2 separate regions of the Homo sapiens genome follow, and region 2 is linked to region 1. A link means that fine-mapping ties the variant in region 1 to the expression of a gene that starts in the linked region. Tissue or cell type: ileum. Region 1 holds a variant in brackets; the other region holds the start of a gene. All regions are shown on one strand. Distances are from middle to middle.

What was found. PIP is the estimated chance that this variant, and not a neighbour inherited with it, causes the effect.
Region 2: IFITM10 starts here. The variant in region 1 is fine-mapped to the expression of IFITM10 in ileum (GTEx, PIP 0.98).

What each region holds. Positions count from the first base shown.
Region 1 is chr11:1,699,490-1,710,002 of GRCh38, reverse strand. No RefSeq gene overlaps it. Among named protein-coding and RNA genes, the nearest start is that of KRTAP5-6, 7.6 kb to the right of the region's middle. The variant A/CCCA (reference allele first, on the strand shown) is at 4,659.
Region 2 is chr11:1,744,709-1,753,877 of GRCh38, reverse strand. IFITM10 (interferon induced transmembrane protein 10) reads left to right here and starts at 3,283. Exons shown (of 3, transcript NM_001170820.4): 1 at 3,283-3,519; 2 at 5,759-6,211. The coding sequence starts at 3,436. It overlaps CTSD (cathepsin D), which reads left to right. Exons shown (of 9, transcript NM_001909.5): 8 at 1-75; 9 at 208-1,123. The coding sequence ends at 375. RefSeq lists enhancers at 3,472-4,227, 4,228-4,983.

The DNA.
Region 1 (10,513 bases):
ATAATTTTGGGTTTCTCTTTTAATTATTCTTTGGCCCGTGGATTACTTAGCAGTATGCTATTTAGTTTCCAAATATGTGGGATTGAATTCCATAGGGTCAGATAATATACTCTGTGGGACTTGGACCTCTTAAAATCTGTTGAGACTTTTTTTCTGGCCCAGAATATGGTCTATGTTGGTAAATGTTCCCTGTGCACTTGAAGAGAGTGTGTATTCTGCTGTTATTGGGTGGAGTGACCTCTAAACGCTGACTACATCCTGCTGGTTTAAAGCGTTGTTCAAGCCTTCTGTGTTCTTTTTTTTTTTTTTTTTTTTTTTTGAGACGGAGTCTCGCTCTGTCGCCCAGGCTGGAACTCAGTGGCGCGATCTCGGCTCACTGCAAGCTCTGCCTCCCGGGTTCACACCATTCTCCTGCCTCAGCCTCCCGAGTAGCTGGGACTACAGGCGCCCGCCACCACGCTCGGCTAATTTTTTGTATTTTTAGTGGAGACGGGGTTTCACCGTGTTAGCCAGGATGGTCTCGATCTCCTGACCTCATGATCTGCCTGCCTCGGCCTCCCAATGTGCTGGGATTACAGGCACCCGCCACCACGCCTGGCTAATTTTTTGTATTTTTAGTAGAGACGGGGTTTCACCGTGTTAGCCAGGATGGTCTCGATCTCCTGACCTCGTGATCCGCCCGCCTCGGCCTCCCAATGTGCTGGGATTACAGGAGTGAGCCACCGCACCCGGCCCTGTGTTCTTATTTAGTTTCCATCTGCTTTTTCTAGCAATTATGGAGGGAAGATTCTTAGTAGAAGGTTATTTATTCTCCACTGTTGAGACCCTTCTCAATATTCCACCCACATGCTCCATGAATTGTGGAATTTTCCAGCCTTTCTGCTGGGGTCAGTCACTGTCCCCAGCCCTGTGTGCGCGCCTGGCACAGTTCCCTTTGGTCCTCTCTGCTGGTTCTTTCCCTGGCTTCAAGTAGTTCTCTCCCACGCATGTGCCATTCAGTGCCCTGCTGAGGACTGAAGAGGGGACCCTCCGCATGTCTCCCAGCTCCCTGTGCAGCGCTCCACTCTCCGATGCTCTGCCCTGTGACCTCGGGCTGCCTTGGTCTTCACAAATGCTCAACTCAAGGAATACACTGAGCTTCCCCGGGGTCTCCTCTCCCTGCGCCATGACCTGGAAACACTCTGAGGGCTGAAACCTGGGGCCACTGAAGGGCTCACGTCCCAGGGCTCACCTCCCAGTCCTTTCTTGTCTGTTGTCTACCTCTTGAGAATAATGTGTTTGTCTTGGTTTTGTTGTTGTTGTTTTACATTTACAATTGTATATTTATTCTCTGTTGCTCTATCTTGACCCAAAGCAGAAGTATCCTAATTCTTTTTTTAATATATTAATCTTTTTATTTTGAGATTATTTTAGGTTTGCATGCAGTTGTAAGAAATAATAGAATATCATGAACCCTTTATCCAGTTCCCTCAATGGTAACTCCTTGCAAAACTACGGAACAATATCACAATCAGAATATTGGCATCGATATTTTCAAAACACAGACCACATTCATCACTGCCGGAACCCTGGGCGATAAACCCTAGGAGACACTAATTGGTTATCCATTTCTATAAAGTTTTCATTTCAAGGATGTTATGTAACTGAAATAAAACAGCATGTAACCTTTTGAATTGGCTTTTTATTTTTCATTCAGCATGATTCTCTGGAGATTAGCAGGCTGTGGTATGTATCAATAGTTCATTCCTTTTTCTTGCTAAACATATTCCATAAGCTGAACGAGCCCCAACTTATTTAACTGTTCGCCCATTGAAGGACGCCTGGATTTTCAGTGTGGGGCTATTATGAATAGCCCAAAGCAATTGTGTGAAAGCTTTTAGGTGAAAGCTGCAATGACTGGAATACTGCAGTAAAGTCTGTTTCCCCTGAGAAGTAGTGGGCAGGTCCACCTTGATATGATGGGGGTGTGGGAAGGCTCTCTTCGTCTCTTTCCCTGACCAAACCCAGCTGCTAAATTCGTCATTGCAAGCTGGTTGCTCGATTGTTTTTGACATCACCCTAGGGAATAAATTGCTTCACAGACTAATCCAATCAAATTCTGACTCCTTTGAAAGGAAAGGCCAGTGCTTGAGATTTCTTACTAACCCAGAAAGTCTCTTCCCAGCTCTCTCTTTCTCCATTTCTCTCCAGAAAACTAGCCATCTTAGAGTTAGGCTACGTCTCTAAAGAATCTATCAATCTTCTCCCAGTTGCCCTTCACCACAACCGCCACTGACTCTGAGAGCACCCTTAGGTTTGAACTTCATACTCTGTTGCAAATGAAGTCAGTTCCTTTTGGGAGAGACTAGGAGATCCTCTGTTCTACATCCTGCCATTCTCCCTGGACAAAATCTCTAAGCCACAGCTCTGGAACTGACGGCAGGGATCTTGGCTCACTGGTGTCATGCCTACTTTAGAAGCTGGACACTTGAGTGATGGGCAGCAGCTCCAGGTGTCCTCAGCTTGCCTCTCTCAGCATGAACCCCTCCCATAAGCTGGAGCAAAGGTGACCAGAGACCCGAGACCCAGGATTCTCAGCATGATGAACCCAGGGCAGCCTTTGCTGCATGAGTGAGACCTGAGGCTGAGTAGAGGAAGGGACCCTCACCTCTCGGACACACTCACTCAGAATTCAGCCTGAGACACAGGTAGCTGGGGGCAGGATGCTAGCACACTGACCCTCACAGGAAGAGAGCCTCACCAACTGGAAGTGAAACTACCTTTTGACAGCGAGAGAGGTCTAGCATGGCTGACTCCATCTTGCTTCTGGCTCATAGGCTGGTTGTCCTTGCTTATTCCTGGACTCAGGCCAAGCTAACTGATGCAGGATTTTTTCTCAGCCTCTTTGCTGGACTCACAGCAGAGGCTCCTCATCTACTTGGCCCAGCATGCTCAGCCCCTTGCGGGAGGGAGTGCATGAGCGAGCAAGTGTGGGATCTGGCCAGCCACTCTGAACGCTGACACGGGAGCAAACTCCACGTGGGGCCCACAGCCAGACCAGGTGTGTCACCTCGAGGAGAACATGGCAGTGCCCAGACAAGGGTGCCCGCAACCCCGAAGCCCCAGAGGGGGTGTTAGTGCTCTAATCAGCTCTTATAGTTCCACCATCCACATCCCAATGGAGGGCAATGTGTTAGCAGCTCGGTCGGCCCCTGGCCTCATCGCGTGGGGCAGCTGCCCTCTGCTGGCGAGGGCAAAGGGCCCGGGTGACATCCTTTCTAGGTACCTGCACTCTGTGGGTCCTGAGCTCTTGTCCAGCGTCCAAGAAGAATGAGGTCATGCTGGTGATTGAAGGATGGTGAAAGTGGAGACTTTTACTGAGCAATGAAAACAGCTCTCAGCAGAGAGGGGAACTGGAAAGGGGACAGGGAGGGCAGGTCGTCTTCCCCAAAGTCAGGAGATCTCTTCCTTGAAGTCAGGCCTTCTCTCTCTCTCTACCAACTGAGTCTGGAGTCTTTATAGGCCCAGGACGGGGGCAGGCCAGGCCATAGGTAGTATTGGAAAAGGCAGTATTTGATTGGTTAAAAAGGCATTATTCAAAATGAACCAATCCGGAGCGAGCAGGCAAACAAGAATAGAAGTTTTCACTCTGGGCTGCAGGTTTCAGGATGTTTTGGCTTGAAGGTGAGGTTTCACTGGGGACCCACCCCCATCTGCCTGGGATTTGTCTGCCTCCTGCCTCTATTATATCCATGGGAGGAATTTAGTTTATAGTTTAACTTGTAAGCAAGGATGATAACGGTCCCGCCCTAAAACAAATCCCCTCCTTTTTGGGGAGCTGAAACTGCCTTTATAGGACTAATGAAAGACCACAAGATTAGAATTACAGGAGGGCATGAGTTCTGCTAAAATATAGGCATAGTTTCTATAATCCCCCTCTGCTTAGGAGTCATTTGTCCAGAGATCACAAGATTTGTGGCTTCCCCAGTTGCTCCTATAGATAATATCACTGTGGTAGAATTAAGATTGGTCTTTTGAGGTGGTTTTCCAACTGACCCCATGCAGACTCGTGACTCACGACTTGTTTAACCGTTCACCCGTTGAAGGATGTCTGGGTTGCTTTCACTTTGGGGTTGTTATCCACCCAGAGGCAGATTCAGGGCACAAGGACCATTTTCCACACCCCTGTGATTGCCCCCGCAACCAATGAGGAGCACCCATTCCCCAGCCCCCCACCCACCACACTGTCCTGGAAAAACCCTAACCTTCAAGCCTTCAGGGAGACGGGTTTGAGTGATCATTCCAGTTCTTCCACCTGGCAGGCCTTGCGTTAATTAAACATTTCATTTACTGCAATACCATGTTCTCAGAGTGAACTGGTTTTGTCTGTGCAGCGGGCGGGAAGAGCCTGTCGGGCAATTACAGAAACTGGAGGAGAGATAGTCTTGCATTCCTGGCTGTACAGCCTGGAGTGGAGCTTCTGTCTCACTGGGCTGGGAGAGGGCACACGCATTGGCTCAGATACCACAGACTCACACAGTTCTCACTAAGCTTTAGTCGATTTTCTTGAATAAATGTTTCTCTATTTGAAATGGCTACAGGGCCATTTGCAGATGCTTTAAATGGTTGTTGGGGGTGGGGTTTCGTTTGTTTTTGTTTTTAAAGTCTTCACCAGTTTC[A/CCCA]CATGGAAGTGGATCTCTGGAGTTCCCCCTCATTGTCACGCTGCAGTGGGACTGCCCTGTGACTTTATTATTTCATAGCATTTGAACATAAGATAATCACAAGCTTTCAAAGGACTAAATGTTCGATGAAGAAAATGGCACAGAAAAAAAAAATGTCCCTTCTAAATAAGGACTCACTTGGTCCTCCACCAGCAACCAGGAGCACTGCCAAGTGTGTCTCTCTCCTTATGACGTGACCTTTTATCTTTAAAGGACACTGAATTTCACTCACATTATTATTTCTTACACAGTGTGTTTTTATTATTCAAGGTCACTAAGACTTTCTCCTGTTTTATTCCAAATGTTTTATTGTTTTATATTCAACATTTAGGTCTATGATGGGCATAGAGTTAATTTTATATAAAGTATGAGGTTGAGGTTGAGGTTTTGTTTTCGTTTTGTCTACGGCGGTTCAATTGTTCCAATGCCATTTTTTGGAAACGGTTCTCCTTTCGCGCGCTGGTATGAATGCGTTCCCCAAAATTCATGCGCTGTAACTTAACCCCTGTTATGGTGTTACTAAGAGGTGGGGTCTCTTGAGAAGTGATCAAGTCAGGGCTTTGCTCTCAGGCATAGATTAGTGCCTCATTAAAGGGCTGGGGGGGATGAGCTTGGGTCCTTTTTGCCCCTTATGTTTTCCACCAAAAGGACACAGCAAAGAGCCTCCACCAGATGCAGAATACTGGCACCTTGATCTGGGGACGTCTAGCCTCCAAAACTGTGAGAAATGTACTTCTATTGTTTGTAAAATACCCAGTCACAGGTATTTTGTGATTGCAGCAGACACTTCTCCATTTAGTTGTCTTGCCCCTTTGTCATAAATTAGCGCAGTCTTGTGTGTGCGAGTGACATCTCAACTCCGTGCTTTTCCCTTGATCTGTGTGTCTACCCCTCTGCCCATACCACACTGTCTACATTGCTGTCGCTTTATGGAATGTCTCAAAGTCAGCTAATGTCATTCTTCCAACTATATTTCTTGTTTCAAAATTGTTTTGGCTATTCTATTTTCTTTTCTTTTTTAAATGTTTTCTTATTACACTTTAAGTTCTAGGGTACATGTGCACAACGTGCAGGTTTGTTACATATGTATACATGTGCCATGTTGGTGTGCTGTACCCGTTAACTCGTCATTTACATTAGGTATATCTCCTAATGCTCTCCCTCCCCCCTCCCCCCACCCCACGACAGGCCCCAGTGTGTGATGTTCCCCTTCCTGTGTCCAAGTGTTCTCATTGTTCAGTTCCCACCTATGAGTGAGAACATGTGGTGTTTGGTTTTCTGTCCTTGCGATAGTTTGCTGAGAATGATGGTTTTCAGTTTCATCCATGTCCCTACAAAGGACATGAACTCATCATTTTTTATAGCTGCATAGTATTCCATGGTGTATATGTGCCACATTTTCTTAATCCAGTCTATCATTGATGGATATTTGGGTTGGCTCCAAGTCTTTGCTATTGTGAATAGTGCTGCAATAAACATACGTGTGCATGTGTCTTTATAGCAGCATGATTTATAATCCTTTGGGTATATACCCAGTAATGGGATGGCTGGGTGAAATGGTATTTCTAGTTCTAGATCCTTGAGGTTATTCTATTTTCTTTTGCCTTTCCTCATAAATTTCATAAACAGCTTATGAATATCTACCAAAAAATCCTGCTAAGATTGTTGTTGGAATCCAATTAAATCTGCACATCAGTTTTGGGGAAGTTGACGTCTTTATTATTTTGTGTCTTCAAATCTATGAATGCACGACTCTCTCCACTTATTTAGGTATTTTTTGATTCCTTTCATCAGTGTTTTGTATTTATAACATGTGCATTCTGTACATATTTTGTTAGATTTATAACTTTTTATTTTTGGACGTATTTCAGAAAACACACTATGTTTTAGGGCAGTTTTAGGTTCACAGCAAAATTGAGTTGAATGTATAGAAAATTACCGTATTTCACCTGCTGCCACACCTACATAACGTCCCCTGCTGTTAGCATCCTACACTAGGGTGGCCCATTTGTCATCATTGATGAGCCAACATTGACACGTGGTGAGCACCCAAAGTCCAGACCTAACCTTCACCTCCACTCTTCATGTTGTACGTTCTACAACACAAATGATGAACGTGGAATGCCATTTATTCACCATCACAGTATCATATAGAACAGTTTTGGGCCGGGCACGCTCACTCCTGTAATCCCAGCACTTTGGGAGGCCAAGGCAGGTGGATCACCTGAGGTCAGGAGTTTGAGACCAGCCTGGCCAACATGGTGATATCCCACACACACCTCGGTCATGTGTGTCTGCTCTTTTTTCTTGTCTGTCTTGCTACAGGCTTATCTTTTTTGATCTTTATTTATTGATCTTTATTGATCTTTTCAAAGAACCAGATTTTGGTTTAATTAATTTTCTTGTTTTATTTTTTTTATTTTTTTGAGATGGAATTTCACTCTGTTGCCCGGGCTGGAGTGTGGTGGCACGATCTCAGCTCAGTTCTCTGCAACCTCTGCCTCCTGGGTTCAGCTATTCTCCTGCCTCAGCCTCCCAAGTAGCTTACATTACAATCATGGGCCACCACGTCAGGCTAATTTTTGTACTTTTAGTGGAGATGGGGTTTTGCCGTGTTGGCCAGGCTGGTCTCGAACACCTGACCTCAAGTGATCCACCCACCTCGGCCTCCCGAAGTGCTGGGATTATAGGCGTGAATCACCACGCCTGGCTGGTTGAATAAATTTTCTCCGTTGTTTTGCTATTTTCTATTGCATTGATTTCTAATTTTATATGCATACATACACACTTATCCATAAATTTATATATTTTTTCCTGCTTGCTTTCAGATTATTTGTTCCTTGAAGGTTATGTAGAATTAACCAATGAAACCATCTGGCCTTGAAGGGTTTTTTTGTGTGGGAAGGCTTTTAACTACAAATTCTGTTTCTTGATAGAGATATTCAGGCTCCCTCTTCCTTCTTGAGTTTGGTGGTTCATGTCTTTCGAGCAATTGGTCCCTTTCCTCTTAGTTTCCAAATGTATGCGGCGTGCAGTATTCCTGCATTATCCTTTTAATGTCCGTGGGACCCGAAGTGATATCCCTTTTCTCATTCCTGATATTGGTAATTTGCATCTTCTTTCTTTTTCATCTTGCCAGTCTTGCTAAAATTTAAAAAATATGTTGATCTTTTCAAAGAACCAGCTTGACTATATTCTTTGTTTATATCTTTTTAATGGTTGTTCTAGAGTACGGGTATATTGCTTACTTTTGCACTGTGTACTTAGAATCGATATTTCACTAATTTAGGTGGAATCCAGGAATCTTCCCGCAATAGAGACCACTTGTCTCATAAATGACAAATACTCATTTTGAAAACCCCACCAGAGAATGGTGTGATTTTTGTTTACAACATCAAACACATTTTGAAGAGAATAACCCATTAGATTTACCCATATGTTCACCTAAAACTCTGAGGATAGGAAACTTTCTCTCTCAGAAGAGCCTTCGTGGTCCCAAGACAGTGGGTGAGCCCATTGTTTTAAATATTTAGCTGGTATTTTATCTCCTCATGTCCTCATTCATGGCCCTTGGTGTCTCCATGTGTCTCTGACTGCGGGTGCTGGCTCTTGCCCACGGTGGCTGCTTTCCTTGTGTGCTTGTGGTTTTCTGCTGTGAGCTCATGTTTGCCTCGGCTGTAGGTGGGGAGCTCAGGGCCTTGGCTGAGGACACAGACTTTGTCTGAAGTTTTGCTGCACTTCCTTCCACCGGGCTGCTCTGGGTCCTATCAATTCAGGACCACTTTAAGTGACTTGCTCAGCTTGTGGTTTTCTGGACCACAAAACTGATGCCAATGTGTGCCTCCCACCTGGATAATGGTGGGCCTGAAGTTGTCACTTCTCAAAGGAAATGTTTTTATCACCCATCTCAGACTCAGCAAACGTATTTCTCTGCTGTCTCCTTCTGGCAGTGGCTGGGTTGCCTTCTAGCTGCCCCCATGAGAGGGCACAGTCCCTTCCTTCTGGCAGCGGCTGGGTTGCCTTCTAGCCACCCCCATCAGAGGGCACAGTCCCTTCCGGGATCTCTGCTTTGGGCAGCAGCTCTGAGCTCCAACCACCCACTGTGCAGAACAAAGACTTGTCTTCTGCATTGCACCCTCCCACGCAGCTCTTAAAACCAAATCCTCTGAGTGCGTGTGCATGCTGCGCTGCACTCTTACAATTCAGGACCCAGCAACAGCCGCGAACGGGGCAAATTCCATGCAACACAGTGGATGAACCTCGCCAACATAGTCTGGGGCCAAAGGAGCTGGCCATGAGAGGACACGGCCTACGATGGCGTTTTATGAAGTCCAGTAACAGACAAAACTGGTGTCTGATGGGATAATTCAAGCTCATGGTTACTCTTGGTGGGGAGTGGGTAGCAATTAGAAATGGGTGCTTCTGGGGTGCCGGAATGTTCTATTTCTTGTTCTGAGGGCCAGTTCTAGGAAGGTGTTCAGCTTTTGTGGAAACTTATTGAGTTCTACATGGATACCTTGTCCACTTTTTTATAGTTTTATTTTAATACAATGTGGCAACAGCAGCGAGGGACCCTCTTCCCTGAGGGGCACCTCTATTCCACAGCTGTCACCCCAACTGACTCTTCACTCTGAAACGTGACAGAGCGTATTTCTGCTGTAAACTGTGCTGCTCCCTCCTCCAGGTGATGAAGCCTATGTGTCCCCTCTTTCCCTTTTTGCTCTGACTGCTAGGGAGCTCACATTAAAGGCTGGGCTCTCTGGTTGTCATTTTCCTGGATCTGGATGCCATGATATCGATGTCTCTTCTACCCTTTCTGGTCTTTTTTGGGTGGTTTTATTCCTGGGGAACTTTCACTCTAACATAATCCACACTTTTTGGGTGAGGCAGCCGGCATCCAAGAAAATCAGGGTAGCATCAGGCCTTGGGGACCAAGTGACATGGGCTGAGATTCTGGCTCTGTGGTTTTCACTTCCGTAACCGGGATAGAGGATGCAAAGCATTGAACTCAGAGCCTGGCAACATGATACAGACTCCGTGAGTATGAGTGCGATGATTATTTTTGAATCATAATGCATCCATGGACACACTGGAAGCACCAAATTAGACCCGAATGGAGTGGTCAGCAGGGAGACCTCCTGGCCAAGGATGGCCAGGCAGAAAGATGAGAGGCTGCTCCCCAGGGCCACCAAGTCACTGATGGCCTGGGGCTCAGGGGCTGAGGGCAGAGACAGTCAGGAAGGACTGGCAAGGCAGCCATACTGGGGCCTCAGGAAAAGGCGCCACTGACTGGCCAAGGTCCTCCCCAGGGCCTGCCCTGCACTACCTCTGCCCCCACATTTGCTGTCAGAGCCATGGTGAGACGGGGCCTGGGATAGGAGGTATCTTCCTGGTGATGTCCCTGAGTGTGGCTCCCGAGAGGAGAGCAGTCTCTGGCCAAATGTTCTGTTGTGGTTATGAGCAGCATTTGCAGTCGGACTGAGAGGTTAGAACTGCACCCATGCCACCTGCGTGTGGGGCCATGCCCAGGTGTGTGCCAGCTCTGCATCTCAGTCACAGCTGCTATGGGAGTCAAGAAAAAGGACACCCACCTTGTGGTCCCTGGAGGACTGGATAGGCTGTCTCCACCCAGGACCTGAGCTGCAGGGGAGGGTTCTGATTCCCTGTCAGCTGTGAGCACGTGGGATGCAGGAGGAGCTCAGTAAACACACATTCAGTGACGGGCCGGGAATGGGCTGACCCTGCAGGCAGATTCACTCAGGCAAGAGCTGCAGGGAAAGAGATGCAGTGGTAGGCGGTGCTTGTTATTTTGAGGT
Region 2 (9,169 bases), 45 kb before region 1:
TCCACCCTGCCCGCGATCACACTGAAGCTGGGAGGCAAAGGCTACAAGCTGTCCCCAGAGGACTACACGCTCAAGGTGAGCGGGCAATGGGGTGCCGCACGCCCCAGGTGAGCGGGCGGTGAGGGGGCGCACGCTCCAGGTGAGCGGGCAACAGGTGGGGGGGCGGGTGGTGCTAGGCCTGGGTACTGACCACCAGGGCCGTCCCAGGTGTCGCAGGCCGGGAAGACCCTCTGCCTGAGCGGCTTCATGGGCATGGACATCCCGCCACCCAGCGGGCCACTCTGGATCCTGGGCGACGTCTTCATCGGCCGCTACTACACTGTGTTTGACCGTGACAACAACAGGGTGGGCTTCGCCGAGGCTGCCCGCCTCTAGTTCCCAAGGCGTCCGCGCGCCAGCACAGAAACAGAGGAGAGTCCCAGAGCAGGAGGCCCCTGGCCCAGCGGCCCCTCCCACACACACCCACACACTCGCCCGCCCACTGTCCTGGGCGCCCTGGAAGCCGGCGGCCCAAGCCCGACTTGCTGTTTTGTTCTGTGGTTTTCCCCTCCCTGGGTTCAGAAATGCTGCCTGCCTGTCTGTCTCTCCATCTGTTTGGTGGGGGTAGAGCTGATCCAGAGCACAGATCTGTTTCGTGCATTGGAAGACCCCACCCAAGCTTGGCAGCCGAGCTCGTGTATCCTGGGGCTCCCTTCATCTCCAGGGAGTCCCCTCCCCGGCCCTACCAGCGCCCGCTGGGCTGAGCCCCTACCCCACACCAGGCCGTCCTCCCGGGCCCTCCCTTGGAAACCTGCCCTGCCTGAGGGCCCCTCTGCCCAGCTTGGGCCCAGCTGGGCTCTGCCACCCTACCTGTTCAGTGTCCCGGGCCCGTTGAGGATGAGGCCGCTAGAGGCCTGAGGATGAGCTGGAAGGAGTGAGAGGGGACAAAACCCACCTTGTTGGAGCCTGCAGGGTGGTGCTGGGACTGAGCCAGTCCCAGGGGCATGTATTGGCCTGGAGGTGGGGTTGGGATTGGGGGCTGGTGCCAGCCTTCCTCTGCAGCTGACCTCTGTTGTCCTCCCCTTGGGCGGCTGAGAGCCCCAGCTGACATGGAAATACAGTTGTTGGCCTCCGGCCTCCCCTCTGTGCTGGTGTGCTCTTGTGCCTGGTCAGGGGTGGCTCCAACTTGGGATGGGGAAGGAGGGTGGGTAGTGCGAAGCCAGCACGGCAGCTGACTCGGCAGCACCGGGACAAGCATTTGGGGTGCCCCGGGCCTATGGCCCCCTGCCCTGCCCTGCCCAGCCCATGGGCTCCAGCCTGGTCGGCCAGCGGGGACTGACTTGTTCCCAGGTCTGGAGCAGTAGCCGGCAGGATGTGGCCTTGGCTGGGGTTTCAGGGTGTCTAGTGTGAGTGCCAGCCTTGAGGAGTGATTTCAGGGAGGTGGCCCAGCCAGGCAGCCACGGCACTCGAACAGAGGCTATTTCTGCTCTCGGGGACCCTCAGAGCAGGCCTACCAGTCACCCTCCTCAGCCCTCTTGTCCCGGGAAATAAATGGCCCCAGGTGGCGTGGGGGGGCTGGCCTAGCTGGGCCTTCTTGCCTCCCAGGCCCTAGAAGCGGTTTTGTGTGCAGTGAGCTGAGCTGGCACCAAGCAAGCCTGCCCAGGGTCCCTGGTTGCAGGGATTGGACTCAGAAGTCCCCTCCAGCCACAGCTGCCACAGTCACGGATCCCCGGGCTGATAACGCGGTGCGCTTGTTCCGCTGGGAGGGGAGGGGTTGGGAGCGTGTGCCCGGATGCAGTGGTAGCAGCCCCTGGGGTTCTAATAGGTAAGTAGGAGTTTGTGGGCATGTGGTGGTGGGAGCAGAGTTCCTTTTGGGATCAGTAGCTCTGGAGTCACTTAGAGCCCCCTCGAGCCCCACCCCAACAGGTTAGAAGATGAGGCAGATGTGACATTTGCCATTATCTTGATGCCTCTGCCTGAGGGTGGTGGCTGCCTTGGCCTTCCTCCCAAGGGGCTGCAGGGCTTTCACCCCAGAGCCATGCTACGGCAGACACCTGGAGCAAGAACATTTACCCAGGGTGGCACGGAGGCTTGGAAACACATGCCTGGCGTTTGGCATGCCTGAAATCTGAGCAGAGCTGGGCAGAACTCTGCAGGGCCTGGCAGGGCTTCTGGGGAGACAAATGTCCTGTCATCAGATGCTTTGTGCACTGAGGCCTGGGAGGGCAGAGAGGTACAAGGAGGCAGCCATACCCTGTTGTCCCTGCCCTGTCCCACTCTCCCCATCTCCCTCCTTCTGCAGCTTGTCAGCTCCGTCCAGCTCCCATCTTCATGGCTGCTGCCCTGGGGTTGCTCCGAGGGCTCCCTCCAGCCCGGCAGGATTCTCGGGGCCCTGGAGTCTGACCCCGGGTTCCTCCGTGGTTTTCTAGCTGGTGACTGGACCCTGAGCCTGGAGTCCCCCCCTGTCTAGACTGTGGGTTGTAACCAGAAACCCCTAGCAAAGGGGAAGCTGGAGCCCAGGCCCTTGGGGAGCCCACCAACAGTCACATGAATGCTGGCTGTGCCAAGTTTGGCTCGGCCCTGGCTCTGCCCTGCGACCCCTGGCTCCCTCTCAGTGGTGTTTCCTGGCCTCAGAGGCAGCCCCAAGGTGGCCTGAGGCCGGGAGCAGGCCCTGGCTCCCCTGTCACCTACCCAGTGACCCTGGGCAGGCCCTGGACCCTCGGGCCCAGGCAACCCTCTCCTGCTATGGAGGCCTCCTCACTGCCTGAGGCCTTCAGGGCAAACTGGGGTGGGGCAGCACTGGGCAGAGGCTGTGTGGCAGGCCAGGGTCTCCCAGAAGGTGGTGGCTGGCCGGGTAAGCCCAGCTCAGATGCTGGGGAGACATGGGGGCATGGCACACAGGCCACACTCAGCCTGGGATCAGGCCCCGTCTGAGGACACCGGGTCCAGTTTTCCCTGGGCCAGGCCCTTGGAAAGGAGGAGGGAGTTGGGGAGGGAGAACGGAACCCTGGTTCTCCGACAGGCCCCATCCACCCACGGCCTGTGGGCTCCAGGGAGAGCATGGCCAGGGTGCCCAAGGAGACGAGGAGGAGGCTCCTCATGCTTCATGACCCCTCCTGCTCGTTAGGGTTTATCAACATCATTTAAGATCAGCCTTGTGCTGTGGGTTCCTGGCGTGCTGTGGATAACACTGTGCCCGGGTCAGCCCAGGCATGAGGGGCGGGGACTAGGCTGGAAAGAGGAGGGGCTTGCAGAGGGCTGGGCTTTTCCAGGGGATTAGGGTTCAGAACAGAGGTTTGGGGAGAGAAAGGGTTCAGAGTCAGGCACAGGCAGGCAGACAGGACCCCAAGCAGGACTGGCCTTCCAGACAGGAAAGAGGGTTGCGGAGACACAGGAGGCCAGTTGAGAGTGGCAGAGGAGAAAGGAGTTTCATGGGAGGATGGGGCTTGGAGAGAGATGAGGGAGGGAAAACGGGGGCCGCCATGCATCCTCAGCTTCCGGGGGACTTTGGAGAGGGTCGAGGCTCAGTGGGAGCTGGAGGTTGGTGAAGAGGACCCAGCTCAGGGAACCTGCGTGGTGAAGTGGGGGACTTGGAGGGAGGGAGGGAAGGCTGGAGTTTTCTCCATGGGGAGGAACTCATGGGGACTGTTATGGGGATGGAAGATCAGCTGGCGTCAAGCATACCGTGAGAGTGAGGATGTGGTGGGGTAGCGGAGGCGGCTGAGGCTGGGAGGACAGGCATTGGTCAGGAAAAATGATTCACAGGGAACAAAGTATCCTCAGGGGACCAGGCTCAGAAGGGCTGGTAGGGATCACAGAGAGGCTGTGGGCAGGTGAGTAAACCAGCCTCCAGGGAGACAAGTGTCCTTAGCAGCCAGGACCTCAGCACAGGACCAGAGCTCGGAACGGGACACTTTGCCCTGCGAGCAGATGGAGCATGACCTGGGGTCTGCGCAGGAGAGGCCACATTCTCCCAGACTCTGGGAGTGAACTGGAGTGGGGCCCCGGCTGGGTGAAGTCAGACTCCAGGAAAGGGGGCAGGAGCTCCGATGGGCAGGAGTGGGCTCAGCCAGGAAGGAACAGAGTAGGGGGTGCTGAAACTTACCGGAAGGCCTGGACTTGGTGGGCTAAGGAGGGAAGGGACTGGAGGGTGGTCTTGGGGGCCTTGTGGACTTGGTTAGGGACAGGATGGGGCAGAGACGGGCAGTCAGGTAGGGGGCCTGCTGGGGCTCAGGGGACTGGAGCTTCGTCAGGAGGGGACTGAGCTGCTGGAACTGAGAGTCAACAGGCCAGAAGGGCAGGACCCAGGGGCGGGGGTCCCTGGAGGCAGCAGGGCCCAGGCGCTGGGGTGGAGCGCCATGGGGAGAGTGGGAAGAGGAAGAGGGTCTCTCTTGGGGAGGCAGATGGGGAGGGTTCCGGGAGCGTCCAGTCTTCCACGGGGCTGGGGGCTCCGCGAGAGGGATGGGGCCGGGTGGGGTGGGGAGGAAGACGCAGTGGGTCCGGGGAGATGGAGGTGGCGCGGACACCCTGGTCGGGGGCTGTAGGGGTCCCATCCCTGCGGGACCTTGCAACTCCCCAGGGTCGCGGCTTCCGAGGCCCCCACCCTCCTGGCAGGAGGAGGCGGAGGCGGGGAGGTGGCTGTGCCCGCTGCCGCCGTGAGTCAGGCTCTGGGCTGCAGCCGCGCGGCCGGTCTGGCGCTGCGGAGGGAGCGCAGGCGGCGGGGGAGGCAGCGGCGCCGCCGCCGAGCCCCGCGCGCTCCCCACCCCCTCAAGGTTGGGCCGCTGGGAGGCGGATCAGTGGACAGACAGCGGCCCGCGGGACGGCGGAAGGACGCGCGCACCGAGGCTCAGGGGGTCCGGCCGCGCGCCGAGGAGTCGCTTGTAGGTGAGGAGGCGCCGTCCGGGGGGCTGCGGCAGACCCGGATGGGGCTGGGGGCTGCAGAGCCTCGGCCGCAGACCCCCCGGCGAGCGCCGCACGGGAGCTGGGAACGCGGGGTGGCGCAGAGCGCGAGCGACTTGGTGCCTCGTTGGAGAAGTGTTCATTTCACAGCCTGTTATTGTGCGTCTATGTATGGCCCGGGGGTGCGTGGCTCCGGGCAAGTGTGCGCGCTTGGGGTCCCCAGGTTGGAGGTGGGGGGCGGTGCGCACGAGTTGGAGACCCCGCACCTGTGCCGGTTCTTGGTGCTCGTGGCTGAGCCTGCATCGCCTTGTGTGGGGAGTTGTTTACTCGTCAATGGCTCTGAGCGCGCCCGCGGGTGCGCCCCGGGGTCTGGAGAGCCCGCGGTGCAGCCCGCGGTGGAGCCCGTGGCGGTGCCCGTGGCGGTATCGGGTGTCCGCGGGCGCCGTGGGCAGGTGCTTTGGCCGCTCTGCTAGCTCTGCCGGTTGGCGGCTGAGGCAGCGTCGCTGTGGGTCCGGCGCCCCGTGTGTGCGGGGTTGTTTGGGGTGCTGGGGCACTCTGTGTTTTGCAACAGTGTCAGTCTCAGCGTTGGTGTGCTTCGGGGCGGGGGGTGCTGTTGTGTGTGTCAGTGGGTGAGTGTTTATGCGCAGATGGCGAAGTGATGAAAGCCCCAGGTCCCTGCCAAGGCTGCTGCGAAGGGCTTTGGCATCGTCCGTGGCCGCCGAGGCCCGGGGCGGGTGGGGGAGGCAGGTGGCAGGCTGGCAGCTGGCGGCCCCCGCAGGGATTTCCGTCTCCACTGGGGCTGTTCTCGGAGCTGCTGGGCGTGAGGGTGGGTGCTGGCCGGTAGGCCGGGCCCAGCTTGCTCTCACTTTCTCCTCTCCAGGCCCAGGGCCCCGGCCAGTGCCCAGCCCCGCTGGGAGACCCGGCCAGCACCACGGACGGCGCCCAGGAAGCCCGAGTCCCCCTGGACGGGGCCTTCTGGATTCCGAGGCCCCCGGCAGGTTCGCCCAAGGGCTGCTTCGCTTGCGTGTCCAAGCCCCCTGCCCTGCAGGCTCCGGCGGCCCCTGCCCCTGAGCCCTCGGCCTCTCCCCCGATGGCGCCCACACTGTTCCCCATGGAGTCCAAGAGCAGCAAGACCGACAGCGTGCGGGCTGCCGGCGCGCCCCCTGCCTGCAAGCACCTAGCCGAGAAGAAGACGATGACCAACCCCACGACCGTCATCGAGGTCTACCCGGACACCACCGAGGTGAACGACTATTACCTGTGGTCCATCTTCAACTTCGTCTACCTCAACTTCTGCTGCCTGGGCTTCATCGCCTTGGCCTACTCCCTCAAAGTGAGCCCGGGCGGTGGCAGGGGGCAAGGGCGGGCTAGAGAGGTGGTGCCGGCAGGACAGTCCCTGGCTGTGGGCGCTCGGCCCCTCTCCCTCTCAGGGGAGCACACGGGTAGAACAGGTGCAGTTGAGGGGCCAAGGGATCAAAGGACAGTGAGGGGTCCTGATGGTGGGTCCCAGAGAGGTCGGGGTACTGGCTAGGTCTGGGCGGGCAGGGGTCTGCCCTTCCCTCTCCTGAGCCATCAGGGCCTGGCTTTCTGCTCAGCCAGCTCAGCGGAACCTGCAGGAGGGGCTGGGAGCGGGGGTTGAGGGGGGCGGGGTTGCTCAGGCTCAGGGGACATGGGACGTAGACCTGGGCAGCAGCCACTTCTCCGTGTGCAGGGATGGGGCCAGCGTGGGGCTGAAGAGGGCTTGGAATCCTACCCCTATGGAAAGGAAGAGGGGCCACCTTCTTATCCAGCTCCTCACCCGGAGCCCAAGGGCAGGTGCTTACACAGCTCTGCCAAGCCCTGCGTGGAGACCAGACCTGGGTGGCCAGGGCAGCCCAGGGAAGAGGGGTGTAAACAGGTCCTGCACCTCCCCAGCTCAGGGCTGCGAGAAGAGCTGGCTGGTAGCAGAGCAGGTGCTGGGCAGACATGACCCTGTCCCCCTGAGGGCAAGGTGGAGCAGCAGGGACTGAGATGGTGGGAGGGAGGCTGTGATGGGCTCACAGTGAGAGGGGCAGCCGTGTGTCAATGTGTCTGGTGCTGGAGCCCTTCCTGGGGAAGGGAGCGTGAGGGCGAGGGCAGGCCCCGGTGCCCTCCTCCCCACCCCGACGCACCGGAAGGAAGGGCTTGGCTCACGTTTAGCCTCATCATCACATTTCCCCAGCCCAGACTTGAGTGGCCAAGGCCAGATGTACTCCACCAATGCAGCTGCCCTGCCGGGTGGGGGAGAAGACAGGGGATGCAGGGAGAGAAGAGGCTGGGCAGAGGCTGGCTGGGAGGAAGGACGCCTGGCCAGCTTCGCCTCTGCTCCATCCTTGAGCTCGAGCCCCACCCCGCCCGGCATCGCAACTGCGGTCGGCGTTCCCCTCCTGCTCCTGACTCATCATGATTGCCAACCCCGGCGTTGCCCACTGGCACGGGCACCTTCAACCTCGGGCCTGCGGATCCATCCCTGGGCTCTGACACAGGGGCCTGTGTGTGAGCCAGCACGTGTCAGTGTATGTGTGTACTCACGTGTAATTGCATAAGTGGGCATGTACTGTGAGTGTAACTATGTGTGCATGTGAATGCATTGTGTGCATGAGTGTGTACATATATTTTTGTGTGTGCATGTGTGTGCATGTGTATGACTGTGTGTAGGCAGGAGTGTATTTGCATGTGTGTACATGTGAATGCATATGTGTGCATGTGTGTAATTACGTGGGTGGGCATGGTGTGTGTAAATGTGTGTGCACAAGTGTGTGAGGGCGTGTGTGCATGTGTGGTGTGTGTACCTGTGTGCATGTGTGTGTAATTGCATGTGTGCATGGTGTGTGTAAATGTGTGTGCACAATGTGTGAGGGTATGTGCATGTGCGCTGTATGTACCTGTGTGCACGTGTGTAATCACACGTGAGTGTGCATGGCACATGTAAATGTGTGTGCACAAGTGTGTGGGGTGTGCCTGTGTACTGTCTGTATGTACCTGAGTGTGCACGTGTGTGTAATCACACATGAGTGTGCATGGCACGTATAAATGTGTGTGCACAAGTGTGTGTGGGGTGTGCCTGTGTACTGTCTGTATGTACCTGAGTGTGCACGTGTGTGTAATCACACGTGAGTGTGCATAGCACGTATAAATGTGTGTGCACGGGTGTGTGAGGGTGTGTGCATGTGTGCTGTGTGTATGTACCTGAGTGTGTGCATGTGTGTGTAATCGCACGAGTGTGCATGGCACGTGTAAATGTGTGTACACAAGTGTGTGAGGGTGTGTGCCTGTGTGTTGTCTGTACCTGCATGTGCATGTGTGTAATCACACGTGTGTGGTTCATGTAAATGTGTGTGCACAAGTGTGTGTGAGTGTGTGCATGTGTGATGTATGTACCTGACTGTGCATGCGTGTGTAATCATACGTGAGTGTGCATGGTACGTGTAAATGTGTGTGCACAAGTGTGTGAGAGCATGTGTGTGTGGTGGTGAGTATTCCTGCGTGTGTGTGTGTGTGTAGAAGCAACAAAGGAAAAGGGCCCCTGGAATTGGAGGTCATGCTTCCGACCAGCTCCAGCTGTGGCTCCCCAGACCAATCCTGAGCAGAAAGCTCCAGTGTTGGGGGGCTGAAGCTGCAGCTGGTGGAGCTCTGCCTCCCCTCTCTCTGTGCCCTGCCAACAGCCTGCGGACATGGGTCTGGCTGCCTGGGCTCCCGTCCGGAAGCTGTCCCTCCTCCCGCTTGGCTCAGGCTGTGGCTGGCCGGCTGGCATGGGGCAGGCCCATCTGGCTCGGGTTGTAGGTAGGTCAGGGATTTCTGGATGGTGCCGGGTTTCTGCAGGGGTTGGGGGTGGTGTGAGGTTGACCCTTCTGAGGGTCAGGGACGGCTCATTACACCTCCTCCCAAGCCTGCTCCTCCTGTGTCCTTCCTGCGGTGGGCGGGGGCAGCCAGGGCAGAGAGGCTTTGGGGCATACCTGGGAGTGGGTGCAAGGTGACCTGTCTCCATCCTGGGCAGAAGGGAGGACGGAACTGGCTGGCTGTGGACCCCACGCCTGGGAATGCATCCATCTGGTCACCCAGCTGCAGGTCTCCTGACCTGCACCCTACACCAAGGACGCGGGGTGGCCCTAGGTTCAGAAGGTCTTGGCTAAAATCCGAGCTCTTGGGACAGACAAGCCATCTTGCCTCACTGAGCCCCTGTTCCCTCATCTGTTCACAAAACAAATAGAAACAAAACAACATTCAAGCCAGCACACGTGAGCAGGGCGGAGGCCCGCATGCAGTGGTATGA